Linked DNA regions of Homo sapiens. The protein of the gene in region 1 interacts with the protein of each later gene in a pairwise test. Each region holds a gene or a part of one and is shown in the gene's direction. Other genes may lie near its edges. The genes, in order: MAPK9, CEP126, ZFTRAF1, NHSL2, SSU72, ZBTB25 and XPO7.

What was found.
Region 2: the proteins of MAPK9 (region 1) and CEP126 interact in a two-hybrid assay, tested with the Homo sapiens proteins (one large-scale study listed by BioGRID and IntAct).
Region 3: the proteins of MAPK9 (region 1) and ZFTRAF1 interact in a two-hybrid assay, tested with the Homo sapiens proteins (one large-scale study listed by BioGRID).
Region 4: the proteins of MAPK9 (region 1) and NHSL2 interact in binary tests that used the Homo sapiens proteins (3 or more experiments, as listed by UniProt).
Region 5: the proteins of MAPK9 (region 1) and SSU72 interact in a two-hybrid assay, tested with the Homo sapiens proteins (one large-scale study listed by BioGRID and IntAct).
Region 6: the proteins of MAPK9 (region 1) and ZBTB25 interact in a two-hybrid assay, tested with the Homo sapiens proteins (one large-scale study listed by BioGRID and IntAct).
Region 7: the proteins of MAPK9 (region 1) and XPO7 interact in a two-hybrid assay, tested with the Homo sapiens proteins (one large-scale study listed by BioGRID and IntAct).

Annotation. Positions count from the first base shown.
Region 1 is NC_000005.10:180,239,716-180,243,702, reverse strand, and holds part of MAPK9 (mitogen-activated protein kinase 9), read left to right. Parts: intron 1-947; coding exon 948-1,130; intron 1,131-2,547; coding exon 2,548-2,672; intron 2,673-3,715; coding exon 3,716-3,779; intron 3,780-3,987. UniProt on the Homo sapiens protein: Serine/threonine-protein kinase involved in various processes such as cell proliferation, differentiation, migration, transformation and programmed cell death.
Region 2 is NC_000011.10:101,963,303-101,967,289, forward strand, and holds part of CEP126 (centrosomal protein of 126 kDa), read left to right. Parts: coding exon 1-578; intron 579-3,987. UniProt on the Homo sapiens protein: Participates in cytokinesis. Necessary for microtubules and mitotic spindle organization. Involved in primary cilium formation.
Region 3 is NC_000008.11:144,459,705-144,464,480, reverse strand, and holds the start of ZFTRAF1 (zinc finger TRAF-type-containing protein 1), read left to right. Parts: upstream 1-1,609; 5' UTR 1,610-1,826; coding exon 1,827-2,198; intron 2,199-4,776. Other genes in the region: TMEM276 (transmembrane protein 276 precursor), read left to right, coding at 1-354; TMEM276-ZFTRAF1 (uncharacterized protein LOC157542 isoform 1 precursor), read left to right, coding at 1-21.
Region 4 is NC_000023.11:72,137,667-72,141,653, forward strand, and holds part of NHSL2 (NHS-like protein 2), read left to right. Parts: intron 1-774; coding exon 775-3,105; coding exon of another isoform or gene 3,106-3,110; exon of another isoform or gene 3,111-3,696; intron 3,697-3,987.
Region 5 is NC_000001.11:1,543,445-1,547,431, reverse strand, and holds part of SSU72 (RNA polymerase II subunit A C-terminal domain phosphatase SSU72), read left to right. Parts: intron 1-2,429; coding exon 2,430-2,569; intron 2,570-3,444; coding exon 3,445-3,563; intron 3,564-3,987. UniProt on the Homo sapiens protein: Protein phosphatase that catalyzes the dephosphorylation of the C-terminal domain of RNA polymerase II. Plays a role in RNA processing and termination. Plays a role in pre-mRNA polyadenylation via its interaction with SYMPK.
Region 6 is NC_000014.9:64,490,258-64,494,244, reverse strand, and holds part of ZBTB25 (zinc finger and BTB domain-containing protein 25), read left to right. Parts: intron 1-3,704; coding exon of another isoform or gene 3,705-3,711; coding exon 3,712-3,884; intron 3,885-3,987. UniProt on the Homo sapiens protein: May be involved in transcriptional regulation.
Region 7 is NC_000008.11:21,922,597-21,926,583, forward strand, and holds part of XPO7 (exportin-7), read left to right. Parts: intron 1-3,987.

The DNA of each region.
Region 1 (3,987 bases):
CCTGAGCGGGTCTTTTGGAAGTATAACATTTTGGAAGAACTGAGTTCATGTACCAGTTCCCTAGGTTATTTCATGGTGATGTAAGTTCATTTTTCTAAGACATGCCTCAGTGAGCACTTTTTTAAGCTGCTGTTGATGCTATTTTTTTCTCACTTGCATTCTCTTGTATAGCGAGTACAGTTTCAGTGTCACTTTCCCACATGTAATCCTAATTATCCCAAGCCTAACAAGCACCCTGTGGAATAGGCAAAGCTGGTAATGTCTGCATTGAACAAATAAGGAAACAGACCCCAAGGAAGCCTGACTTTCCTGACACACTGAGTGTTTAATGCAGAGTTGAGTCTGAAACCCAGGTCACGCACTTTGAAAGGAAATAAAATGCATTACCTAGGGATCGCAGTGATGGTTGGGAAGAGTCAGTTCCAAGTAAAATAGAGCATCATTTGAAAGCTGTCGCTGGGCTCAGTCTAAGCCCAGTTGCTTGGTTCCCAGCTGTAAACTGAGGAGGTCAGATAGGTCTCTCCACAGGTCCCTTGAGATCCTCTGTTCTTTAGAGAGCTGTGAATGAATCTAAGGTAGCATTAGTATGAAAACTGATTTCAATTTGCTTATGTAATGTTTATCTAATTTCGTGTTTAATCATTTTTGCTATAGGTATTCTTAGTTATAAGATAAACTTTATTTTGAACTAGAGTGGGAAGGTGTGTAGACTTCATTGTGTTGATTTAATAAACTGTGATCATAGTTTATGAAGATGCAGAGTGTGAGAGTTTTAAAAAATAGTGTAACTTGGAAACCCAAACCTTATTTGAATATTATTTCAAAATTCCGCTGCTGATCCAGTGGGGTGGCCTAGTCGATAGGTTTAAATATTATTCAAGTGATGCTGCCGCATGTACTGTGAATACAAGGTACTTCAGTTGTATTTTCCTCAAGAAACTCCTTAGATATTGATCAGTGGAATAAAGTTATTGAGCAGCTGGGAACACCATCAGCAGAGTTCATGAAGAAACTTCAGCCAACTGTGAGGAATTATGTCGAAAACAGACCAAAGTATCCTGGAATCAAATTTGAAGAACTCTTTCCAGATTGGATATTCCCATCAGAATCTGAGCGAGACAAAATAAAAAGTAAGATATCCTTTTTTTCTTATACTTGTGTTTTGTAATTCAGGTGGTGCTTTCACTCTTTCATGTTTGTATTCTAAAAACCTGTGTTTTGGGAGAGAAAGTCATTTTAGGCCTGAAGTCTGAGGTACGAAGGCACTGAGGAGAGAAAGCTTAAAGGTCTAGAAGCTTTATCCTCTATAAGACGGCTTAATTGAAGCCTTTGGCCAAAATAAAAATAATCAAATCAGTCTGAAAGAATCTTATGTTACAGTTACAGCAACTGGAATTCAAAAAGTTTTCAGGTAAGAAGAACACTTAATGCAGATTCTAGAGTCAGAAGCGATGTGACAGTTGTTCGATGAAAAAGGTCCTTCCTCCCCACCTTCTCCTGCACCCTTTACTACAGTGTGATTGTTTAAGGAAAAAGAAAAGATTTGATTCTGTCCGCATGAAGGTAAACTGTGCCTTAATCAGAAAAGCCCCAGTCTTTGCTTATTCAGGTTGTGAACTTTAATTGACAAAACCTAGGTGAGCCTTATATTTAACTAAGTTATTGAACTTGTTTTTCTTTTTCCTAAATACCAATCTGTAGATTAAAAAAAAAAGTGTAAGTTGCCAGCACTGTATACAGCTAGGCCAGCCAGAAGCATCTGTGAGTGTTTTATCCTGTGGGAATGTGAGATTGTTGTGTGGTTTGAAAAGTCTGTTCTAATTTCATTTCGATGTGACTTAGAGAAAAATACTCCCCCGTGCCTCATGCCCACACTCTGGGCAGTGCCACCCGCAGCTCGGCAATTGCCACCTTCCTTGCTGTGGTTTCCCAGCCTTGGGCCCTGCCCAGACATTGGTCTGAGGCTGCCTGGTGCTCTTCCCCACCACCCTGGGAGCCCAGGTTTCTCTTCCCCTTGCAGATCCAGAGGCGTAAAACTACATTTGGAAACCTGGTTTGTCATGAAAGTGGACATTTGACTTTTTCTTAAAAATGTTTGGGTTATGGCTGGGTGCGGCGGCTCACGCCTGTAATCCCAGCACTTTGGGAGGCTGAGGCAGGCGGATCACGAGGTCAAGAGATCGAGACCATCCTGCCTAACACAGTGAAACCCTGTCTCTACTAAAAAAATACAAAAAATTATCCGGGCATGGTGGCAGACGCCTGTAGTCCCAGCTGCTTGGGAGGCTGAGGTAGGAGAATGGCGTGAACCCGGGAGGTGGAACTTGCAGTGAGCCAAGATTGCGCCACTGCATTGGGCGACAGAGCGAGACTCCGTCTCCGAAAAAAAAAAAAAAAATTTTGGGTTATATTCATCTTGAACCTATCAAACATTTCTCAAAATTAATATATCTTTGTTCTATCTGTGTTGTCATATTTAGTTCTTTATTGTATGATTCTGTTTGTTTCATATTAACAGCATTAATTTAATATTTGTTGTCACCCTAGCAAGTCAAGCCAGAGATCTGTTATCAAAAATGTTAGTGATTGATCCTGACAAGCGGATCTCTGTAGACGAAGCTCTGCGTCACCCATACATCACTGTTTGGTATGACCCCGCCGAAGCAGAAGCCGTGAGTATCTGTTTTGAAAAGATTTATATAGAGAGGCCAGGCTTATATTTCCTTGGATCTTGTCTGTCCGTCCAGAGTGGCTACATATGGGTAGCAAGTTCTCCATTTGGGGGCTCCCAGTTACAGAAAGGCCAAGTGTTGTCTGAGACCTGGGTCGCTTGCTCTTTTGCTGCTGGAGCCCCAGCTCAGAGTACCTCGGGAATGAACTTCCGCTTTGGTGCTACCAGTCTCCATTTTGCAAATGCTGCTGTGAGCTCATAGTTTATTAAGCATCTATTCTGTGCCATTGGCTTTGGTTACATCCTCTTGTTTAGGCCACTTAACCAGAGAGGCTGAGCAACTTGCTGAAAAATCACACGTCTGTTTATCCTTCCCTAAAGGCATTGTAGCTCCTGGTTCCCCCGCTGGAGGAGCTCCACTCTGAGTTTGGTGCTCACGTGCGTGTTTCTGTGTCAGCACTGGTGTGAGTGAGCTTTAGCTGTGAGGGAAATCACTGCGTAGTGGCAGGCTTCCTTCATGCCATGAGTGAAATACATGTTTATGTCATGGCCTGTGGTTTTGCCATCAGTTTAAACATTGTTTTATATAAAAAGAATCCAATTTATAAGCAGACTTTTATAACAGTCCATTTATGAGTTGGACATTGGATTTGGGAGTTCTCCCATGAAGAAAATGTAAAATTTGTTCTAAGAAACAACAGTACCTTCCATAGCTGCCAGCACAGTGCCTTGTCCATAATGGGTCTCTGGGAAACAGCCTGTGATGATGAGTTTCTAATGACATCTGGGCAGATGTCTGCGTTTTGAGGTCAGGTGATTATTAAGAGGAACATAATAACTCTTCTTTGGTTAACTTTTTCATAATTATTTTGATTCTAAAGTTGATATAATATCACATGACAAATCTTTATTAAACCACGTGTTGAATTAAACTAAATCCATATCATAAATAGACTAGAAGTCTTCCAAGCAATTTTACCTTTTTTAGTGCCTCATTTTTTTTTGAGGCATTACTGTTGACTTTACATATGATTTAATTTTTAGCCACCACCTCAAATTTATGATGCCCAGTTGGAAGAAAGAGAACATGCAATTGAAGAATGGAAAGGTAAAGATGGAGCTTATTTTGATCCTTCCTTTTGACATTTCTTCCAATCCTGTAGAGCAGAGGCTTTTCATTTTGTGACATTTCCCTTCAGGAAGGGGCAAGAAACCCTGCGACCCACTTAGCCTCTTTCTCCCCAGTTTCCAGTAGAAAATGAACTTGAAGAGAACAGAGTTAGAGAGGAACATTTATGAATTTCTTATCATTTGCT
Region 2 (3,987 bases), on another chromosome or scaffold:
AATTAGAAAACCAGGATCTGCAAAAGTCCAATCAGGCTTTATATGTACAAACAGAAAAGGCGCTGTCATTCAACCACAGTCTGCAAGCAAAGTCAACATATTTACACAAGCTCAGGGAAAATTAATTATACCTTGTCCTCCTCCTCAATCTACATCAAATATTAGAAGTGGTAAAAATATACAAGTGTCTCAGTGTCAACCAGTAACTCCTGAAAATCCTCAAAACATTATTACACATAACTCTTTTAATTCAAAACATGTGCTTCCAACAGAACACAGTTTGAATCAGTGGAATCAGGAAAGTAGTTCTCCACTCTCAAATGCTTGTTCTGACCTAGTCACTGTGATACCATCACTGCCATCATATTGTTCTTCAGAGTGCCAAACTTTCGCAAAAATAAATCATTCAAATGGCACTCAAGCAGTTGCCCGGCAAGATGCGACATTATATTGCACCCAAAGAAGTCCTGTTTGTGAAGAAAGTTATCCGTCTGTGACTCTAAGAACTGCTGAAGAAGAATCAGTTCCCTTATGGAAAAGAGGTCCTAATGTCCTGCATCAAAATAAGAGGGCTACAGGTAAGAATAAATTTATAGCTTTTTATAGATAAAATGTACACCTTTGTTAAAGTCATGTGAAATTGTTCCTATTTATGTATGGCCATACATACTACATAAATATTAATATTAAACAATAGCTTTATAGAAATAACTTACCTCCAGGCCAAGCACAGTGGCTTACACCTGTAATCCCAGCACTTTGGGAGGCCCAGGCGGGCGGATCACTTGAGGCCAGGAGTTCAAGACCAGCCTGGCTAACATAGCGAAATCCCATCTCTACTAATAGAAAAGTTAGCCCGGCATGGTGGTGCGTGCCTATAGTCCCAGCTACTCGGGAGGCTAAGGAAGAAGAATTGCTTGAACCTGGGAGGTAGAGGTTGCAGTGAGCCGAGATCATGTCACTGCACTCCAGCCTGATGACAGAGCAAGACTCTGTCTGAAAAAAAAAAAGAAAGAAGTAACTTACCTCCTGTAATATTGTGATTTTTGGCCAGGCACGGTGGCTCATGGCTGTAATCCCAGCACTTTGGGAGGCCAAGGCACGCGGATTTACTTGAAGTTGGAAGTTCGAGACCAGCCTGGCCAACGTGACGAAACCCTGTCTCTACAAAAATACAAAAATTAGCCGGGCATGGTGGCGCGTGCCTGTAATCCCTGCTGCCTGGGAGGAGGCAGGAGAATTGCTTGAACCCAGAGCCCAGGAGGAGGAGGTTTCAGTGAGCCAAGGTGGTGCACCACTGCACTCCAGCCTGGGCAACAGAGCCAGACTCTATCTAAAAAAAAAAAACAACAACAACATTGTGACGTTAGTAGCTGAATCCTTTTAAGAGAATGACCCAACCAGTGCTCAACTGAAATTAGAAACTTTTGCCAGCCTCCATTTTTTTCCATGACTTTTCCTGTTAGTTTAAGAGGAAGGACAAGGAATAGGATCTGATTCTTGTCCCATATTATTCTGTCATTACTATTGTAGTCAAATTTTCCAACAAAGTAAGCACAGTGAAAAATATTGTTTAAATTATTATAAACAAGTGAATACATGTAGTTATATTTATTTTTCTTTAAAACTTTTGTTAAATTGAGTTGCTATAAACTAATATTAATTAGATATACCTAATTCTCCCATTCTCTTTCCCAAAGTGTGGTAGCTCTGCTTTTATCTGCTATGACTATTGGTTTTTGTGAGAGCAAAAAAATGATATCATTGTCTTGAAATATTTTTGAAAATTAATTCTCTATAGAATGCCATTGCCCTTACTAGCTGGTCGACTCTCATAAAACTTCTTTCCTTCTATGAAGGAATAAACTAGAAAGCAATATATTTTCCTGCCAATAGGAAACAGTTGCCTATTGAGAAATAGTTAGGACTGGAGTCTGGAGGCAATCAGAAAAACAACTCTTGTTTTTCCAAAGGTATGAATAAATATTGATATATAATGAGAGTTTAAAATTTAATATTCAAAGTCATCTTCAATTAAACCATGAGTTTTTAAGGCCAAGGGACATTTGTGTAATTCATCACAGTATCCCCAGATCCTAACAGTGCCTGGCACTTAGTAATCACCCAGACTCTACTTGAATTGAATGGATAGAAGCCACATTAGCAGAAGGGAAGCTAAATGCAGACACTATAATCTAAAAATCTTCATTACTTGTCTACAAAAATCTAGATTTTAAAAAATTGTTTCTCTCACTAAAATTATGATTTTTTTATCCAGTCATTTCAGAATGTAACTTTAGCTTTCACAACACTTCAAAAAAATGAAGGTATCGTACAGATTAAATATTCTAAAATAAATAATGATAGTTACCCTTTTTGAGTTTGTAGCTTGTACCAGTCACAGTACTGTTTTATACTTACTGTCTCATTTAAACCTTGTAATAATGCTGAGAAATAAATATTTTTAAGACACTGTTTTGCAAAGAAGTAAGCAGAATTATCCAAGGTCAAGAGCTAGTAAATAGCAGAATTGGTATTTTGATCCAGATCTCTATGGTTCCAAGTCCTGTGCTTTTTCTACTAAAATCATATAGTAAATATAGTGATAAAGCAAATATCATATATCACACTCTGCTAATTAGGAAAAATATTAGGAAACTTATAGTTTCCCAATAGCTTATGTACAAAAGGGTAACATATTAAAATTATCTGATTCTCTGATAAAGGAATGGGATACATTTTATCTGGAGAAACCAATATTTTCCTGACATTTAGTCAAAGGAGGTAGTTCTCTCTGGGACATTCGTATAAGGGACATTGGAAAATGTAATGAATTTTAACATTCTTAAATGTTCTTAAATATTCACACTGTTGTAAATATCTATACCTATTAATACAGCGATTATACTTAGAAAATATAACAGTACTAACAATACTGAATATTTTGTATGTTCAGTCATTTAAGCTTTTTTTTCCAAAACTGTTTAAATATAAAATGCTTCAAGTGAACTCTTTGTTAATACTGGATTACAGTTCAGTGAGCATTTGTGGGATTTTTTTTCCTACTCTCTTATTTGCAGTTCATTTTATTTTTATACCCTTATGCATCCAGAGTTGACGATTGTGGAGAGCATCTTGTTCTCAATTAGCATTTCCAGAACACTCTAGCATAACTCTCTAGGAAAAACTCTTCCAATTAGATCCAAGCCATTCGACTATACCACCTCCTGATGTCTCCAGTTATTTCCCCCCTAAAAGATGACTTTGATATTTGGTTCACAGTCTTCATTTCCATACAGAGTCTTTGCCATCATATTGGATAGTTCAGCTTTTATATGGATGAGCAAACATCCTGATCCCTCTCACTCCTTTTTCATCTCTAATAACTTTCTATACAATTCTGCCTCAAATACCCTTTCCCTTTGTTATATTCTGGACCTCATCAACATTCATAACTCCTCTACTTCTTTTCTTTATTTCAGCTTTTATTTTAGATATAGAGGGTACATGTGGATGTTTGTTACATGGGGATATTGCATGATGCTAAGGTTTGGGGTATGGATCCTATTACCCAGGTAGTAAGCAAACTCACTCACTCCTCTACTTAAGCACATTCTCCTCTCTTTTCCCTACTCTTACTCCTACCATTCTTCTACCCTACTGGGCTTCTTTAGTCCAGTATTTTCTCTACTTTCTCATTCCAATTCATCATCTCTTTCTTTCTTTTTTTTTTTTTTTTTTTTTGAGATGGGGTCTCACTTTGTTGACCAGGCTAGGGCGCAGTGGCGTGATCATGGCTCAGTGCAGCCTGGGACTCCTGGACTCAAGCAATGCTCCCATCTCAACCTTTCAGGCACTACAGGCACACACCACCATGCCCAACTAATTTTTTTATATAGAGACAGGGTCTCCCTGTGTTACCCAGGCTGGTCTTGAACTCCTGGGCTCAAGCCATCTTCCCACTCAGTCTCCCAAAGTGCTAGGATT
Region 3 (4,776 bases), on another chromosome or scaffold:
CTGGCCTTCGATTTCCACTGGGTGAATGGGGACCGCTCCTCTGCCAACCTGCTCCTGGGAGGAGGCATGGTGCTGGCAGTGGCTGGCGGCCACCTCGGCCCTGAGGGCCGCTCTGTGGCTGGTCAGGCAATGCTGTTGGTGGTCGCAGTGACCATCCTCATTGTAGCTGTCTTCACGGCCAACACTTATGGGATGTGGGGGGGGGCGATGCTGGGTGTGGCAGGCCTCCTGAGCCGGCTGGAGGAGGACAGGCTGCTGCTGCTACCGAAGGAGGATGTCTGTCGCTGGGCCTTGGCTGTAGGCAGCTGGGCTTACTGCCGGGCCCTGCATACACAGCGCCTCCAGTGGGAGTGACAGTTGGATACAGCCAGGCAGGGTTTCTGCCCTGCCGAACACTTTCCCTCCCACCTGCCTGCTCCTGGCGCCTTCTCCCTAGGGGTAGACTCTTCTGCCTACTGAAGTGGGTTTGCTGCACATTGACTGGTCAGGGGCAGAGTCTGGGTGCTGTCCTTTGGCCACGTGTGGGGACTTGTCTAGACCAGAATGAAAGGGACAGGGTCCCAGACACGTTTGGGGGTCCTGATTCTGGGCTGGACACGGTTGTGGATCCAGAGAAGAGGCCTAGTCTCCAATAAATCTTAGGAATTTTGCAGGAATATGAAAACTGCCCATTTTTGAGAGGGATTGAGGGATCTTTCAGTGAGCTTCCTAAGGCCCCTCAGGACAGTAGTCAGTTACCCTGACAGGGTATGTGCTGGAACTAGGATGGGGTCTCATGCAGCCCGGCCTCCTTTTGACTATTGTCAGGAAGACCCCTGGGCTGAGAAGACATAGCCCTGGGCCCTTACTCTCCAGGGACATGGTGGAGTTCCAGATATCCTGGCCTGGCCTGGCAGGTGGCCCTCTGGGGCAGTGACCTTCAAGAACTGAAGAGTAGGGTGGAGGCAGGGGAGGGCTGTACCACAGGCGTTTCGAGAAACGCACATCCTTCCCAGAGCTGATTCGCCCTCCTGTGTACCTCCGGCCTGTGGAAGCCAGCCCTATTCCCTAATACCTTCGTTTTCCTCAGTGGACCCCTTCAGTCTCCAACCCCAGGGTTAGAGGGGGTTCGGACGAGCAGAGGATTAGATTCCGGTGGGTTAGGGGTCTGGAGTCCCCTCTCCTGGAAGTCTCTCCGCTTGCTCCTGTGGAGACCTAAGGGGTCCCGCACCCGACAGAGAGGGGTGGCCGGCGGGATTTTTCACTTGTGTCCTTCCCCTGCGGGGAAGGGGGCGAGAGCCCCTAACACAAGCCTGAGTCTTGGGGGACAGAGACACAGGCACACCCCGCCGTAGGGGTCGGCGGCCGCCACTGGCTCGTGGAGCGTGGGTGCCGCGCCGGCGCCACAGCTCGCGTGGGCCTCCCTGCCCCCAGGTGCGAGTCCCTCCGCGACTCTCGCAGGCCGCGCCCCCTCCCCGCCCACCTTCTGCAGGGGCGGGCCTTCGGGGGCCCTCGCTCTCCCATTGGCTCTAGTCCCTGCGCTTTCTTGCCCCAAGCGGCGCTCCCATTGGCCCCGCGTGGGGCTCACGTGACGGGGAAGACGAGGGGGTGGTGGCGGCGGGGCGGGGGGAAGCGCACAGCGAAAACAAAGATGGCGGCCGTGCCGGGGTCGGTGGCCGCGGCGGCTGTGGGGCTACGCGCGGGCCGGGCCCACTGAGGCGGCGGCGCAGGGAGCGGGGCTGCGGGTTCGCGGCGGCGGCGGCAGGAGAGCGGCGGGAGCGCGCGGCGCCCCTAACTTCTAGTCGGGGGAGCGCGCCGGCATCCGCCCGCCGGGCCGGCCGGCCGCTATGTCCGGCGCCGAGGAGGCCGGCGGGGGCGGCCCGGCCGCGGGGCCCGCGGGCTCCGTGCCGGCCGGGGTCGGGGTCGGGGTCGGAGCCGGGCCCGGGGCGGCCGCCGGGCAGGCGGCGGCGGCGGCTCTGGGCGAGGCGGCGGGGCCTGGGCTCCCGGACGAGGCGGGCTTGGCGGGCGCCCGGCAGCTACAGCTGCAGGAGGCGGCCGGCGACCCCGACGCGCCGCCCAAGAAGCGGCTGCGGGCAGCCGAGGCGGCCGAGGCGGCGGCGGCGGCGGCGGCGGCCGGCAGCGGGAAACTGGAGGAGCGGCTCTACTCGGTGCTGTGCTGCACCGTGTGCCTGGACCTGCCCAAGGCCTCCGTGTACCAGGTAGGGCCGCCGGCCGACCCCGACCCGGCCCAGCCCGGGGCTGCAGCCCCCGCCGCGGGGCCCCAGGATCCGCGTCTCCTCGGAGGCCAGGCCTGCGGGGCCCGGCGGCCGGGAACCCTCTCTGGCCCTTACAGCCACTTCCTCGCCCAGCGGGGCTCCAGCGGCTGCTCCGAAGCTCCTCGTTGTCTTTCTCTCAGGGCTTTATTTTCCGCTCGGGACCCCCCTTTTCTGTTTTCTGATCCACGGTACTTCCCGATCTGAATCGCTTGTCTTCCGCTTACCTCTCCCTTCTTTTTTCTAGACTTCCCCACGGTCCCCTGAACACTCTCCCAACCCACAGCCTCAAACTGATCCTTAGCCCGCAACTGCTCCCCGCAACCCACCCGGTCCCAAGCTCCCTGGGCTCAGAGTCCTGTGCTCGAGAGCTCCTTCCCCATTCTTCCGGCAGCCACACCCCCGAGTTTGTCCCTCCACTCCTGAACATCCTATGGACGCCTCCTTTTCTACCCTCCTGGGTGGAAGAATCCTTTCTCTTGGTCCATTTCCAGTTCATCCTGAAGAACAGTAAGGAGAGGGGATTGCTGTTTGTCGGGATGAACCATTTGCAACAAGCCCCACAGTTTGGGTACCTTCTCCAGTCCCAGCCAAACCCCACATCCAACTGGACTTGCCATGCCCCACGCTAGGCTCCTGCCCACCTCACCCAGGCCAGGCCAGGCTTCCTAGGCAGCCAGTGCTCCAGGAGCCGGCCCACCCCTCCTCCCCCATCTTCACATCCGCATGGCAGTGGGACTCAGCCCTTAAGCAGCCTAGGGCTGTTAGGGTACCTGGCCCAGGTGGGTTTGACATGCCCTTTCCCAGGTAGCAGCAGGGACAAACTGGTTGACACCCAGAGGCAGAGTACAGTGTCCCCACCTTCCCTGTGTCTTTCCCTCTCTTTCAACTCCCCAGTCCCTGTGAGAAATGAAGCAGGTTCTCTGTCAGCTTTCTTTACACTTACAGGAGCTGGAAGTAGCTAATGGGGCCTTGTTTCCCTGCTTGTGTTTGAATTGGGGGCCTGGATGAGGAGCTACTTTTGTAGCAGGTGGTGTAGGGCTAGTCTAGGTTGCCATTTCTCCAAACTCTGGATCTCCAAGTCCTTCTTGCTGTGGCATGACCTTGTCGGGAGGACCCCAGTGTGCCTGGGTGGGGAGAGGGCACTGGCTCTAACCCACCCTCCTGGGTGTCAGGCACCAGGGCCAGCTAGGGGAGCACTTTTCAGAGCCACTGGCTCCCAGAGTTAGCAGTTACTCCTTGGCTTTGGCAGTGCCTCAGCTTCCAAGATGTGCCCACTCTCCAGCTCCTTTTTCCTGGCTCACAACCTTCGATCCTCCCAGGCGGAAGAACTCTCCTTTTTTTTGAGACGGAGTCTCACTCTGTCACCCAGGCTGGAGTGAAGTGCCACGATCTCTGCTCACTGCAACCTCCGCCTCCCGAGTTCAAGCAATTCTCCCTACCTCAGCCTCCCGAGTAGCTGGGATTACAGGCGCCTGCCACCATGCCCGGCTGTTTTTGTATTTTTTAGTAGAGACGGGGTTTCGCCATGTTGGCCAGGCTGGTCTCGAACTCCTGACGTTGGGTGATCCGCCTGCCTCGGCCTTCTGAAGTGCTGAGATTACAGGCATGAGCCACTGCGCTTGGCCAGAACTTTTTCTTGGATCTCGAGGGAGACTCCAACAAGCCAAGCCAATGGTGTGAGGCCACGGGGGAACAGGGAAGTCTCCTTGTCTCCCCATTGGTGGGTGGGCTGGAGCTGTAGCTGGACCTGGTGGTGATGGGCCACATGGTACTGGTCCCTGGTGCACTGCATCCCCCATCTAGACTGGCCCGGCACAGAGTGATGGCTCTGCTTCTGACCGGAGCTCCTGGTGACCAGGCCTCTGAGCCTAGCTGGTTCAAACCGGCCTGCACTGTGCAGAGTGGAGTTCTGCTCTGGGCGGCCAGAGGCAGGGAGCTGAACAGGTGTAATGGAGACCGAAGGCGCTGGGGCTGCCCTGGCTGGTGGCCCTCCCTGGCCTGGGGGCTCTGTTCAGTGACTTCCCTGGGAACAGAGCAGCTGAGCGAGGAGTGCTGTGGGCACAGGCCTCCCTGAATGCTGCGAAGAACACCTCCGGCGGGTGGCTCTCGGCTGTGAGTGGTGCCCCTGGAAGGTCAACACAGACCTGGAGACCTGGGCTCTGGCCTGCTCTGCTCCCTGGAGAATCTGGGCACAGATGGTGTGGGCCCCCACATGCTGCCTTCTGCGTGTCCCTGGTTGGGCCCATGCTGGCCATCACCCCAGCTTGGGTTCAGTCTACCATATTCTACTAGCTTTCCTTGGTGACCACGTTGATTGGCTGTCTCGAGCCAGCCAGTGTCAGGAATGCAGCAGGTTCCACCCTCTGTTCCTGCTAGAACGCTTTTCCTGACCCCAGCAGAACACATGGCTCAGGGTGGGCACCAGCCAAGCTGGGGGCTGACTTAGACAGTCCCTGACTCTGGTGAGAAGAGGGGAGTGGCCATGCTGAGCTTTGTGTGTTCTCCCTGGCACTGGGGCTGT
Region 4 (3,987 bases), on another chromosome or scaffold:
CTCTGAGCCTCAGCTTCTTCATCTATAAAGTGGGGATAATGATACTGACATGGTGGAATTAGCATGAAGATTAGCGTTATTGTATGTAACTTGCCTACCATGTGCCTGGTACATAGTCAGTGTCCAATAAATGGTGGCTATTGTTACAAATTCTCATAGCAGTAGTAGTTATAATAATAATAATAATGACATGACAGTATTAATTGTTTGTGTGTATGAGAAAACCTTTGGGGATTTGGAACATCCAAACGGTTTCCTCACATCCGTAGATTATCCTCAGCCTCTTATGTTGCAAAGCCTAAAAGTGATGGGTGCGAACAATGCAACCAGACTCTTAGCTTTGCATCTTGGGCATGCTCCAGAGTCATTGCTGGAGCCAAACGTCACACCATGCCGTCCTTAGTTCGGAAGCCTCTACTCTCATCTCTAGATGGATGAATGCTGAGGTCTGTGATGGTTTCATGAGCCTGGGGTGAAAGTATGGGGAAAATGCAAGGTAATCCCACGTGACACTTCAGCTCTAAGAGGAATAATCAAAGCTGGAAAGTATTTGGCAGCCATCTGGACCATTCAAGGGCACCGTATGTCTCACTGTGGGGTGATGGGCAAGGACCCAATTTCCCCAGCATCTTCATCCATGGAAGGGAAGAACCAAGGAATTCTGACCAAGCTGTTGGCAAATGCTTCTTGGCAAAAAGTTGGTGCTCCTGTCTCAAAACAGCTGGTGGGAGATCCCTTGCTGTAGCACTCATGTCCTGTGTTTATTTCCTCCAGGTCACAGCAACAGCCCAGCAGGCAGTGTGGCCCACTCTACCACCTCCGACATCAGGCCCAGTCACTCAGTTCCAGAAGGGGTTCATGGAAGAGTTGCAGTTGGTCAGGATGCTCGGTTCCCAAGTCTCACCTCGCCAGTACTGAGAACTCCTTCCAGTGAGCCGGACGAACCTCACCAGGCACGGAGTGGCCCAAACCCTCCTGGCATGGAGAGCATGGGAATGGTGTACAGTGTCCCCAGTTCTTGCAATGGACCTACAGAATCAACCTTCTCCACTTCCTGGAAGGGAGATGCTTTTACCTACATGACTCCAAGTGCCACCAGCCAGAGCAATCAAGTCAATGAAAATGGGAAAAATCCTTCCTGTGGGAATTCTTGGGTCTCTCTAAACAAAGTCCCACCTCTGGTTCCTAAGGAGGCTGCTACCCTCCTTGTCGCTCGTGATAACCCAGCAGGATGCAGTGGGTCAGCTGGCTACCCTGAGCGCCTTATTCAGCAAAGGCACATGCCCGAAAGACCCTCCAAGATTGGCCTTCTGACCAGTGGGACCTCGAGGCTGGAGACAGGCCCCGGTGGGGCCAGCAGATTCCGGGAGCGGTCACTGTCTGTGCCCACAGACTCAGGCACCACAGATGTGGACTATGATGAGGAGCAGAAGGCCAATGAGGCCTGTGCCCTGCCTTTTGCCAGTACGAGCTCTGAGGGCAGTAACAGTGCTGACAACATTGCCTCCCTTAGTGCCCAGCAAGAGGCCCAGCACAGAAGGCAGAGGTCCAAGAGTATCTCACTTAGGAAGGCCAAAAAGAAGCCTTCCCCACCCACACGCAGTGTCTCACTGGTCAAAGATGAGCCAGGCCTCTTGCCTGAAGGTGGGTCAGCACTACCCAAGGACCAGAGGCCCAAGAGCCTTTGCCTCTCCTTGGAACATCAAGGACATCACTCGTCCCACCCAGATGCTCAGGGTCACCCAGCTATTCCAAACCACAAAGATCCAGAAAGTACACAATTCTCCCACCACTGGTATCTTACTGACTGGAAGTCTGGTGACACCTACCAATCCCTGTCCAGCTCCAGCACTGCCACTGGCACCACAGTCATTGAGTGCACCCAAGTTCAGGGCAGCTCAGAGTCTCTTGCCTCACCTTCCACCTCCAGAGCCACTACACCTTCCCAACTCTCCATTGAAGTGGAGGCCAGGGAGATATCATCCCCGGGAAGGCCCCCTGGACTGATGTCACCCTCCAGTGGCTACTCCAGCCAGTCGGAAACACCAACACCCACTGTTTCCATGTCCCTGACCCTGGGCCACTTACCCCCTCCAAGCAGCAGTGTCCGGGTACGTCCAGTGGTACCTGAGAGGAAGTCATCACTACCCCCGACGTCACCAATGGAGAAATTTCCCAAGTCACGGCTATCATTTGACCTACCACTGACCTCTTCACCCAACCTGGATCTGTCTGGGATGAGTATCTCCATCCGAAGCAAAACTAAGGTGAGTCGGCACCACTCAGAGACAAATTTTGGCGTCAAGCTGGCCCAGAAAACTAATCCCAACCAGCCAATCATGCCTATGGTTACTCAGTCCGACCTACGTTCTGTTCGCCTGAGGTCGGTCAGCAAGTCTGAGCCGGAAGATGATATTGAGAGCCCTGAGTATGCCGAGGAACCCAGAGCAGAAGAAGTCTTCACCTTGCCAGAGAGAAAGACAAAACCTCCCGTAGCTGAGAAGCCTCCGGTGGCCCGGAGGCCTCCAAGCTTGGTCCACAAGCCACCATCTGTTCCTGAGGAGTATGCACTAACTTCACCAACCTTGGCTATGCCCCCCAGGAGCTCAATTCAACATGCGAGACCACTCCCTCAAGACAGCTACACGGTAGTGCGGAAACCAAAGCCCTCCAGCTTCCCAGATGGCAGAAGCCCAGGGGAGTCAACAGCACCCTCATCTCTTGTTTTCACGCCTTTTGCCAGTTCCTCTGATGCTTTCTTCTCAGGAACACAGCAGCCTCCCCAGGGAAGTGTAGAGGACGAGGGCCCCAAGGTGAGGGTTCTGCCTGAAAGAATTAGCCTCCAGAGCCAGGAAGAAGCTGAGAAAAAGAAAGGCAAGATTCCACCTCCCGTACCAAAAAAACCCAGCGTGCTGTACCTGCCTCTCACTTCTCCCACAGCTCAAATGGAGGCCTATGTGGCAGAACCAAGGCTGCCTCTCAGCCCCATCATCACCCTGGAGGAAGACACCAAGTGTCCCGCCACCGGCGATGACCTGCAATCACTTGGTCAAAGGGTGACTTCAACTCCTCAGGCTGACAGTGAAAGGGAGGCAAGCCCTCTGGGTTAGTAAACTGTCTGCTGGCTTTTTCCTTCAGTCACAGGAGAGATGAGGGTGAGAATGGAGTGCCAGAGATGGAAGCAGATGCCCCAGAATAATTATCCTGATCCCAAGTCAGTAGCGGGCACCCTTTGAGGGTTTGAGTTACTCTAAATAGGAACCACGGGCTGGCCTTACTGCCCTTGAGATCAAGACTAGCCCGAGGCAGATCTCCAAGGCCCAGTTTAGGCCACTCTCCCCTCTAAATCTCTAGTGCTGAGATAATGAAATCAAACTAGGTTCTAGCACCCTAGGACTTCAGCATCCCACATCCCTAGCCAAGCATGCATCCTGTCTTGGGAACTACTCCACCTCACTGTACAGTACTTTTCATTGGCTGCAGTGAATTTAGTTCCCTACATGGGACCCAGTACCCCACCAGACTGAGTTCAAGTGCCATGGCAGGCTCGGAGCCATCTGAAACAACGGAATATGTTGCCACCAGCAGCCTCTTTTTGTGCCTTCCGGAGGAAAGGGAGCTCACTTTCTTGGGTGGTTTGAGTTCTTTGGCTCTTCCTGGAACCATAAACATAATACATAATGCTTCTCATCCTTTCTTTTTCTGTCTCTTTTTGTTTTAATTGTGGTAAAGTACCCATAACATTTACCATCTTGACCATTTTTAAGTGTGCAGTTCATTCGTGTTAAGCACATTCACATTGTTAAGCAACCAATCTCCCGAACTCCTTTCATCTTGCAAAACTGAAACTCTGTACCCAGTAAACAACAACTCCTCCTTCTCCCTCCCCGCAGATTCCTCCCTCCAACCACCATTCTACTTTCTGTCTCTATGAATTTGACTCTAGACACCTCATATAAGTGGAATCATACAGTATTTGTCTTTTTG
Region 5 (3,987 bases), on another chromosome or scaffold:
GAGGAGGCTGCTGCTTTGTCCCTGAAGTAGACATTTCTCCTTAACTGAATGATTCTTAATTTATTGCCTCATCTACATAAATAGTTGAGAATGACGTAAAGGAGGAAAGGACTTAGAACTGTCCAGGCCTCAGGGAAGAGCTGGCCTTGAACGTCCATGAGCTCTGCCAGCCAGTGACACCAGTCCCATCCCCAGGAGCCCCCACGGCCTCACCCCCGGCTGTGTCTTGCTCAGGGATGTGCAGGGAGGGTGATCCCTGTGCCCACCATGAAGCTGCCACTGGACCCCTGCACCCTGACCCCGGTTCCTCTCCGTGAGCCGGTCCCTGCACCTGCCCCTCTGCATGTGGCTGCACACAACAAGGTCAGGCCGTCTTGAGCTCTTTTTTTTCTTTTCTTTTTGAGACGGTGTCTTGCTCTTGTTGCCCAGGCTGGAGTGCAGTGTCACGATCTCAGCTCACTGCAAGCTCCGCCTCCCAGGTTCAAGCTTCTCCTGCCTCAGCCTCCCGAGTAGCTGGGATTACAGGTGTGAGCCACCGCGCCCGGCCTTTTTTTTTTTTTTTTTTTTTTTTGTTGTTGTTGTTGTTTTCCAGAAGGAGTTTTACTCTGTCGCCCAGGCCGAAGTGCCGTGGTGTGATCTCGGCTCACTGCAACCTCCGCCGCCCGGGTTGAAGCAACTCTCGTGCCTCAGCCTCCTGAGTAGCTGTAGCTGAGATTACAGGTGTGTGCCGCCCCACCTGGCTAACTTTTGTATTTTTAGTAGAGACGGGGTTTCACCATCTTGGCCAGGCTGGTCTCAAACACCTGACCTCAGGTGATCCACCCGCCTCGGCCTCTCGATGTGCTGGGATGACAGGTGTGAGTCGCCACGCCCGGCCTCCTAGAATGCTGGGATGACAGGCGTGAGCCGCCGCACCCGGCCTCGAGCTCTTCTTTCCGCAGACTTTGATTCTCAGCGGCTGAAGGACTAAGTTCCCCAGAGATGGACCCGGGTGTCATAGCTGCTTCCAGGGGCCTCGGGGACACAGGCGGGACTCCAATGTGCAGGAGGAGACACACGTCAGGGGTGGGTGTGTGACTTCCACGCTGCTGACAGTGACCCAAGGATGCAGCTCAGGGTCAGATGCCGTTAGATCAACCACTTCAATGTATTATAAAACTATTATAAAAACTATTTTTGCTACCCAGGAAGGTAGCTGAGTTCACTTAGAATTCCTGTCAGCTAGGCTGTTTATCTGAAAGTGGTTACTTGTCCCTGACCATCTGGAATGGCTCAAATGAGCTCCTGCAGACCACAGAGCTCATCTTTGGGAACCCAGTCTCTCTTTTTGGGGAAGTGAGCCCCTTCCTTGGGAACCCCTGAGGCCAGGCATGGCCACTGTGGATGGTGGGAGGATGCCCCACCCTGAGGACCCCAGAGGCTCCTGTGGCCCCTTCCTGGGACTGCTGGGGCCGGTGTGTGTCAGCGTTCACCCCAAGGCCCCCTTTCAGCTGGGCTGGACGCCAAGTGCCTTCAGGCCTCATCCTGCCCTCCACCATCCCATAGTCAGTGAGGCTGTGGCATCTCCCTCCTCGACTGTCTTGCCCTCTTGGTTTTTGTATCAGCGTTTTCCAGGCTGATTGCTGCTGAACCTTCTGTTTTTTTTTCTTTTTCTTTTTGAGACAGTCTTGCTCTGTTGACCAGGCTGGAGTGCAGTGGCATGATCTTGGCTCACTGCAACCTCAGCCTCCCGATTAGCTGGGATTGCAGGCATGTGCCACTATGTCCGTCTAATTTTTGTATTTTTAGTAGAGACGGGGTTTTACCGTGTTAGCCAGGATGGTCTCGGTCTCCTGACCTCGTGATCCGCCCACCTCGGCCTCCGAAAGTGCTGGGATTACAGGCATAAGCCACTGCGCCCGGCCTGGAGCTTCCTTTCTTTGGGTTTTCCGATGTTCTTGACTCTGTTGTAGCTGAGCTAGACTGGGGACTGGGTTTCCGGGTTTGCTTTGTCTCTGCTGAAGGGCTGAGGTTTCAGAGCCAGCATGCACTGCACAGGGAGCAGAGGGAGGAAGAAGGATCCGACTGCGGAGACACAGTGACTGAGGCCAAGGGCAGCTTGGGCCGGGCCAGCAGTGAGGGGAGAGGTCTGGGTAGAAGGTGTCATGCTGGGCGGGGGCGGGGGGTGTCCTGCGGGCCTTGGGTCTTTTTGCCGAGTTGGGGGACAGCGAGGAGCAAGCACCTGCCATCGCCCACTTTGTTTTCTGTGGGACCTCCTAGGACAGTGAGGCCCCTGCCTCACCAGGGCATGGCCCACTCCGCTGTCCAGGCCTTCGTCCCGGCTGCCTCTGCTGTGGGGCAGGGAAGGGGCTGGGTGTCCAGGACACAGGCGCTTCCAGGCTTCATACACAGATGCCTTTTCTCTGACGTTCCTTAACTCCCATGTGTAGCTATACACAGAATGGGATTTTACATATGCTGGACAGAAATAAGAGAATCAAGCCCCGGCCAGAAAGATTCCAGAACTGCAAAGACCTGTTTGATCTGATCCTCACTTGCGAAGAGAGAGTGTATGACCAGGTGGTGGAAGGTGAGGAGGCGGCTGCGTGCTGGGCTGGGCTCCAGCAGCTCTCACAGGGTCTGGGGATGCCTGCAGGGCCCCACCATGACCAGTACAGCCCGTCTAGAGTGGCGGGGGCCGGGGAGCAGACCTGAGTGTGAAGCACCCTGGAAGGCAGGCAGGGCCGCTGGTCGCTGAACCACCCATGTGCTGGCTGCAGCCTCATGGGCTTCAAGGGGCCTCTTTTCTCCTTGGTGTTTTTTTGTTTTGTTTTTTGAGACAGAGTCGTGCTCTGTCGCCAGGCTGGAGTGCAGTGGTACAATCTAGGCTCACTGCAACCTCTGCCTCCCGGGTTCAAGTGATTCTCCTGCCTCAGCCTCCCGAGTAGCTGGGACTACAGGCGTGTGCCACCACACCCAGCTGATTTTTGTATTTTTAGTAGAGACGGGGTTTCACCATGTTGGCCAGGCTGGTCTTGAACTCCTGTCCTCAAGTGATCCGCCCGCCTCAGCCTCCCAAAGTGCTGGGATCACAGGCGAGAGCCACCGCGCCAGGCCCATTTTTCAAGCGGATGGACCCTGTGTGGAGCTGGCGGTGGAGCAGGGAGGGCTGGTCTTTAGTGACGGGGAAGGGTCGCAATGCCAGTCACGGTTCACCCCAGGACTGGCTGGTGGGTGGGGAGTCCCAGACCAGCTTGTGCTGAGTTGGAGATTTGCTCAGGTTTCCTCGAACCATCAGCCGCCTTCGGTTTGAGGCTCATTCATTGTGCTCCCCAAACTGCAGAGTCCAGAAACCACTGGGGCTGGGCTGGGCCTGCAGCCGGCAGAGCTGGGGACTCAGCCACATTGACTGCCTGTTCCCTGGTTTTGGAGCCTCTGACGTCTGTGTCACCTTGTCCCAATCAGATCTGAATTCCAGAGAACAGGAGACCTGCCAGCCTGTGCACGTGGTCAATGTGGACATCCAGGACAACCACGAGGAGGCCACCCTGGGGGCGTTTCTCATCTGTGAGCTCTGCCAGTGTGTAAGTACCCGGCTGGGCGCCGCGCTGGGCAGAGGTTGTGACAGAGGGGAGTGACCGAGGCCGTGACAGAGGGGAGTGGCCGAGGCCGTGACAGAGGGGGTGGCCGAGGCCGTGACAGAGGGGAGTGGCCGAGGCCGTGACAGGGGAGTGGCCGAGGCCGTGACAGTGGGGAGTGGCCGAGGCCGTGACAGTGGGGAGTGGCCGAGGCCGTGACAGAGGGGAGTGGCCGAGGCCGTGACAGTGGGGAGTGGCCGAGGCCGTGACAGAGGGGAGTGGCCGAGACCTGAGGCCGGCCCTGCTGCTTGGGGCAAGGTCTGCTCAGCTCGCCTGTGTCGGGGGCGCCTGCTGGTAGTTCAGTGAGTCACTCCACAGCTTTGGCACAGGAGGCCCCCCTGCAATGCCCTTTGCTCAGCTGAGAGACGCT
Region 6 (3,987 bases), on another chromosome or scaffold:
TGTTTGTAATGGGCCTCACCCCCATGTTTCTCTTCAGTGTTTTGCACCATTGCCATCTCCTTTCTGCAAGGTCATTGCCTTTCCTCAATGACGATGTTTTCTTTTTTCTCCTCCTCTGTCTTATTTTGTCTTTTCTGTTTTCCAAAGATTCATTCTTAGCTTTTTTCCCTCTTATTTCATTCTACTTTTTAGTCTACTTTATTATTTTCATACTTGGTTACTTCAGCCTTGTCGTTTCAGAGGCCTCTTCTCCCTCTCTGGCTCTGCTCTCTCTAGAGCCCTGTCCTGCTTCTTGTCCCCGCTGATCACTAAACATTTCTACTTAGATACCTGGTAGACACTTGGAGCTCAGAGTGTCTGAAGTGAAACCCCTATTCTTCTTCTTCTTTTTTTTTTTTTTGAGGTGGGGTCTCAGAACCTCTTATCAAGACGGTTTCTGTACTTCTTCTCTAATGTTCTGGGACTCTGCCTTTATATCAACACCTAGCACATGGCAGTTACTCTGAAAATGTAATCTGAAGGAATGGATGAATTCTTCCAATTACCCAAGCTGGAATTCTGAGACTCACCTTTGATTTGATCTCTGTGGTGACAAGTCATGTCAGTTTTGTGTCTGATGTATCTCTTGTATTCCTTCCTTCATTCCCACTGCGATTACTTTGATACCATAGTAGGCTCCTAGCCAGTCTTTCTCCATGCCTTTTCCCTTGCTAATATTTTTTATATGTTGCTGTTAGAGCAGTCTTTACTCACGCCTAATGATGGTGATGATGATAATGCCTAGTATTTATTAGGCACTAACTGTGGGCCCACTGTTTCTAAGTGCATTATATCATTAAATTCAAATAACCTATAAGTTAGATACTGTCATTGTCCATATTTTATAAGTGAAATGGAGGCCCAGAGAGTTAAGTGTCTTGCCAAGACCACGCAGCTAGTAAATGGCAGAGCTAAAATTTTAAGCTGTCTGATTTTAGTTCAAGCTTTAACTACCACGCTCTGTTCTCCCTCCCACAGAGTAAGTTAACTGATCATGCTGTTCTTACTCAAACATCTTACATAGTTCACTTCAAACACGACACTACTTTTTAGTCTTATATTCTGTATGCTTTTTGAACTGACCACATTTCATTATTTCTGTTACTTTTTTTTTCTATGCCAAGCTGAATCCTTCTGTTATCTAACTATTCATATTCTTCCCAGTAATTTTATTCATTTTATTTTTTCTGCCTGGCCTTGTTTCCCATCAAGTTGCCTGTGTTTATCTCCCTCTGATAGCATGTTCTCTAACTGCTCTGTGCTACTGAATGCATTTATTTCATATTATAATTATGGTTTGATGTTTTATCTTTCCTGTGAGCCTGTAATCTTGAGTGTAGCATCTTGTCATTTTTTTCTGTCTCCACGCCTTGTACAATGCAGGCTTTTACACATTTTTTCTTTATTAAATTGCTCTTCAAAAATATCTGTTGAATAAGTGAAGAATTTAACTGTTACCAACAGACCATTAACCATAAGATTCCTGTATGGGTGGCTTATTAGTGTGCTATGTCTCATTTCCCTATGGTTCAGTAGTTCAATATAATGGGAAGAACTGGTGAAAATGTTTATGATCCGAGGGTTTGGTTTTGTTTTTTTTTTTTGAGACAACTTATCAGGCTAGTTTAAGATGCTTCAATATGAACCATTTCATTGATTCTAAGACACGTTTTTCACATGCTGAAATTGTCAATACAGATTTTTAGTTTGTTAGGCCGGGCACGGTGGCTCATGCCTTTAGGAGGCTGAGGTGGGCAGATCACCTGAGGTCAGGAGTTTGAGACCAGCCTGGCCAACATGGTGAACTCCCGTCTCTACTAAAAATACAAAAATTAGCTGGGCATGGTGGCGGGCACCTGTAATGCCAGCTACTTGGGAGGCTGAGGCAGGAGAATCGCTTAAACCCAGGAGGCGGAGGTTGCAGTAAGCCGAGATGGAGCCGTTGCACTCCAGCCTGGTCAACAAGAGCAAAACTCCGTCTCAAATAATAATAATAATAATAATAATATAACTTGGGGATTATTCCACATCAGTACATTAAATATGTAGTTTTAATAGAGTCTGCCTTTTTTTTTTTTTTTTTTTTTTGAGATAGGGTCTTGCTCTGTCACCCAGGGTGAAGTGCAGTGGCATGATCATGGCTTACTGTAGCCTCAATCTTCCTGGCTAAAGCTATCCTCCTGTCACATCCACCCAAGTAGCTGGGACTAAAGCATGCACCACCGTGCCTGGCTAATTTTTGACACATAGGAAGCACTATAAAATGTTAGCTATATTTATTATATTACTGATCACTTAGCTGTCTGCTGCCCAAGCCACTGCCAATCTTTAGACGGCTAACCCTGCATTACATCACTGACCTCCTTAGACCTTGGTCTGGCTGGCTGGTGTGGAAACCTCATTCTCTTTTTCAGTGTCTGCTCTTTCAAAGGATGTTCTCCTGGCCACCCAATGATGCCCTTTATACTACAGCTACCTTCTGCCTAAAGTACCAGGGCTCTCTCCACAGTAGGGTAGAGAAGATGATGTACAGTCTGCCACCTGCCTGAAACCAGGGCACTTCTGAATGTTTTTGCTGCTTATACTCGGCTTCTTGGCCAGAATTCTGCATGTTCTTCCTCATATAGGCTTCCCCGCAGTTGTTCCACCTTGCCTTTTACTTCCTTTGGGAACCTACATTATAATATGCGTCTGAATCCAGTTGAGATCAGTTCTTTCTTTTGTGTGTGTGTGTGTGTTTTTGAGACAGAGTCTCACTGTTGCCCAGGCTGGAGTGCAGTGGTGTGATCACAGCTCACTGCAGCCTTGACCTCCCAGTCTTAAGTGATCCTCCTGCCTCAGCCCCTCAAGTAGTTGGGAGTACAGGTGCATGCCACCATACCTAGCTAATTGTTTTATTTTTTGTGGAGATGACGTTTCACTATATTGCTCAGGTTGGTCTCCAATACCTGGGCTCAAGCAACCCTCCTGCCTCATCCTCCCAAGGTGCTGGGATTACAGGCATGAGCCACTGCGCCAGCTTAAGTTCTTTCTCAGGAGGCTCTTGGGCCACAAGTAAATTGGGGATGTGGCTTGACATCTATTTTAAGAGTTCCTGAGCTACTGTGATGATAAGTCCCCCAAACATTTGATGAGAGTTGGGAAGCCAGTATCCCCTGAGCACCAGAGGATCCCTGAGGAGGAGTGACATCTCTAGCTCAGCCAGGATACCGTGTTATGTTATTAACATTTATAGCTAACATCGAATAGCAGTTTCCATTACAACATGATTTTCACATAAGTTATTTAACTCTGAGGCAGGAATCAGTATCTCATTTTCATTTTTCTAATGAGGAAACAAGATTAGAAACATTGTGTTCACATAGATGGAAAAGGACAGGTCTGTCTTCATGTGTCACTCATACCAAGCTATCTTCTTACCAGATGAAAAAGGGTCATATTTTATGGTTCAGCAGAGTTTATATCAGTTGTCATAATGGAGGAATTTAGTGTTAGCCGTGTTTGCAGTGAAAGTAATAGGATTGAAAACTTGAATAATTTCATTTAAATTTAGATCTCCTTGTTACTCTGTAGGTTTGTGTGAACTGTAGACAATTTTGTATTAATAAAAAATAATGCGTATATACATACACACCTATCTACATTTATCTTGTCCTTTTTTTCAGAACCACAATGGACACTGCCAGCCATAGCCTTGTTCTTCTCCAGCAGCTGAACATGCAGCGAGAATTTGGTTTTCTGTGTGATTGCACAGTTGCAATTGGAGATGTTTACTTCAAAGCCCACAGAGCAGTGCTTGCTGCTTTTTCTAACTATTTCAAGATGATATTTATTCACCAAACAAGGTAAGGATGTGTTTTTGTAAATAAGAATTTTTAATATTGTGATTTATATAAGCTTTATTATAGTATCATTTTGGAAATTCTTTGTTACGGAGTCACACTAAGA
Region 7 (3,987 bases), on another chromosome or scaffold:
GAAGACAACGCTCAGTGAACAGTGGTGATGAAGAAGATTAAGAAGGATCAGATGTTAGTTTTAATAGTGCTAGCTGGTGTTCAGGAGCTCGAGAGGAAAAGGAAGGAAAGAATATGATTTATATATCGAATATGCTATTTAATATGAATTATATTAGTTTTACCATAAATAATGGAAATGAAGACTGATTCCAGGATTTTGCTGGAATTACTACGTTGTTGTGTTGGGTCTTATTATTTACTGGGCTTTGCATTATGACTGTACTAGGAGAATGTACTATTTGCAAAGTAGTCATAGTTTGTTTTAAATTCCAGGCACAGTAATTAAATATTGACTACCAGTGTAACTCCAGGGAGTTGTGAAGAATCATTACAACTTGTCAGGTTAAATTTTAGCAGGGTGCAAAAAGTCGGCCTGATTATAGCAAAAGTGATGGTTGTTTTTTCAGCTTTTAACAATATGCAAGGAAATGATAAGTGCTATGGGTAGTCCATTTTGAAAAGGGAGTTCCGTACAACTTTTGAGAATTTTAAATGGAAAAAACATAACTTTTCTAACTTTTTTCCAGTTCGACTAATACCAGAATGCTTAGTGTGTGCAAGGCCCTTTCTGTGCTGGGCACTTCAGAGGATTCAGAATGAGAAAGACACTGGAGCCAGACTGCTGAAATATCCAATTCTGATGCTCTTTTGGCAGGCTTCAGGAGCACACACGTAGATACAAGAAAGAATACATTGATTTCAAAACATGCTACATCTGTGTTGGGTGATAAGCAATAACTATATCCCATCACCCACTCCCACCCTGATTATACCTCTTTCGTGGGTTTATACAAATAATATGTGTGTATTTTATTTCATTATTTTACTCCTATTCAACACCACACTGGAAATGTCTGTATTTAAAACATATATATCTATATATTTACTTGATTACTCTGACTTTAGTATATTTCCTGAGAAGCCTTGAGAAAAATTAAGGGATGTATATATACGTGTGGGATCATTCAAACACTTAACACAGAAAAAACAAAATACAGTACAGTGATGGAAGAATCTCTAATTTAGATGAAGGTATAGAAAGAAGTATCAGGAAGATCCCTGTTCTATATCTTACAGAGAAATTAGCTTCCATTTGACCCAGAAATTGATGTTCATAACCACCAGCTGTATTTTCTTTTTTCTTGGTTGGGTTTTGAAAGCAATATTGTACCACAGCCTTTCGAGGTGGGAAAGTTGCCAGTTTAAACCAATAAGCTAATGTCTCTCTGTAGGTACAACTACTGAGGCTACTTTGCCCACTTCAGTATGTGCAAGGAAGATAGTGTTTTGAAACTGCATCTTTTTAAAACACCTAACATTATCTCACATTTTCTCAGGGTTAGGAATCTGGGAGTGGCTTAACTAGATGGTTTTGGTTCAGGGTCTCATTTGCAGTCAAACTCTCAGCTGGGGCTCCGGGCTGCAGTCAATCTCAGGGCTTGACTTGAGGATAGAGAATTTTCTTTAGGTTTACACACAGCGGGCCTGGTCAGGCCTCAGTTCCTCACTGGCTGTTGTCTGGAGGCTGCAGTTCTTTACCAATGGGCCTCTCCTAGTGCATCATTTTTAAGGACTTCATTAAATTCTGTAATGATATATGCTGTGTATAAGTGACCCATCTTTGTTATTTTTTTCAAAAACTTTTTATTGAAATATATACCTGCAGACAGGTACAGAAATCATATGTGTTCAGCTTGATGAATTTTCACAAAGTGAATACTCCTTACTAACCAGCACCCAAATCAAGTCAGTATTATCGGTGCCCCAGAAGTCCCCTGATACCATCTCAACAGCTACCTGTAGCCCCCCTCCCCCCCCCACCCCACTAACTACTATCCTGTCATTTTATTTTTAAATCTGCTTTTAGAACTCAAGCTGAGTAACCTGAGAGTTTTAGCTTCAAAGCCAGGGGGAGAAGCAGTACAGAGCAGTGATTATACAGCTTTGGGGGGATTTATTTCATAATATGATGGAAGCTATGTTACTGCTCTCTGGTGGGGGTGGGGAGAGTGTGCCTACACAAAATTTTACCCACAATTTTAGGCCATTCATGAACCTTGATAACTAGAGTTTAAATATATGTTTCTTTTTAGATGAAAATGCTCACAACATTTTATTGAGAAACTGATTTACAAGTATTTCTCTTTTGACTTATTTGAAAAGCAAGTTCAGGACCACGATAAATGTTCCTGGAGAGTTACATGCAAGCTGAATTTTTAAATATTGAAATAAATTCTTGAGGATGATTAATGGTGACCACTTAAGCATCTACTAATATCCCATTTTTGTTACTGTGCAGACACATAGAAGGAAATACAAGATGTGATATTCTACTTCCAGGGCCTTACATTGAATTGAGCATCACAACAAGCCTGGTCATTGAGTTGTGAATTTGTAGTGAGACTGGTTTTGTCGACATGTCCCTGAATGGGGGGCAGTCACTACCCCGTTATCTTTTCCCCCATTCCAATACATGTCTGGAATACATTCATTCCTAACATTTATAGTGACTCATTACTAGGAAATTCTCAATGGAATGGGATTGGTACCCAGGAGGCATATCAAAATCTTGGGGGAGGGAGAGAGTTGTAAAAAACCTAGATCCTAAGTATTTCTGATATTTGCTTCAATGGCTGTTCACCCCTTCGCACATGTGTGCATGCACACAAGGACACACACACACTCCTACTGCCATAAAATGGGAAGGATGTATTTAAGAGAAGGCAGAATTGGAAACTTCATGCTAGCATTAATTGATATCATTTAATGCTCACCGCAGCAATGTAACATCGGTATAGAGATAATAGTAATAGAATTTTCCTTGAAATAAGCTGATTAAAAGACCTGGTATCCCTGGAAGACTGGAGAACTCGCTGTTGGAAGATTTAGATGATGTTCATGGTGGTGGTTATTGTAAGACTTACTGGAGTGTGACTTGGTTGGTCATAGGGAAAGGGGGATACCAGTATTAACTGAGTGTCTGTTATATGCCAGGCACCATGCTAAGCCTTTTATAGTGTTATGCCATTTAATTGGGAAACTCGTTTGGTCTCTGAGCCTGGATTAAGTGATCTGTGAAGTCCCTTGTACTTCAAGCATTCTGGATGGGATTTCCAGTTGTCATCCTTGTATTCTCTCCCCAATATAGCACCGTGTTCTCAATTCATATGTACATGTTTGTAAAATTCCTTAAAATATTTATGCTCAAACCAACATTTCCATTTTATCTATCTTAAATATATCTTCCTCTTCTTTACGCCTAATTTCTTAAACTCCCAGAGTTTTTTTCTGTAAGATCTAGTCATCTGTAGCACTTCTCACAAATTGAGCTCTCTTATGCCCCAAACAGTAACGAAAGAGGTCTCTTAGTTGGACAATAAGCAGTGAAAGATATTTCTTATGGGACAAGAAATTAACATTATTAGTCAAATGTTGATGCCGGTAGGCTGAGAAATGATTCTCACTTAAAAGCCCCTGGGTTTTAAACCTCTCTTAGAAAAACATTAGTTAGATGAAAAAAAAAATCAAAATATTTTCCTCTGGAAAACAATGTTCCTCTGAAAACAAGCAGATTATTAAAATATCCCTTGTACTACTTCAGGAAATTGTAATCTTATAACTGTAGTGGCCTTTTAGCTTTTAAATATATGAACTTGAGTTGGACACATGCTGATCTCATTGGTACTTTGCATGATAAGAAATTATGATATTTACAATGTGCAGTCTCAGAAAGAACTGAGAGTTTTGCTAGACATTTGCCCTAAAGTTTGAGTCAATTTATGGTTTAAAGGGGTGTATTTAAGGCTAGAAAAGGGAAATGAAGGGTTTTCTTAGGATTTTTTCCAATTCTATTTAAAATTGTTTGCAAAGTTTTGAAAGCATATGTCATGAGTTTGGCAAAAATTATTTCAAAGCTTGTTTTTTTTTTAACCTCATTCACCTCTGC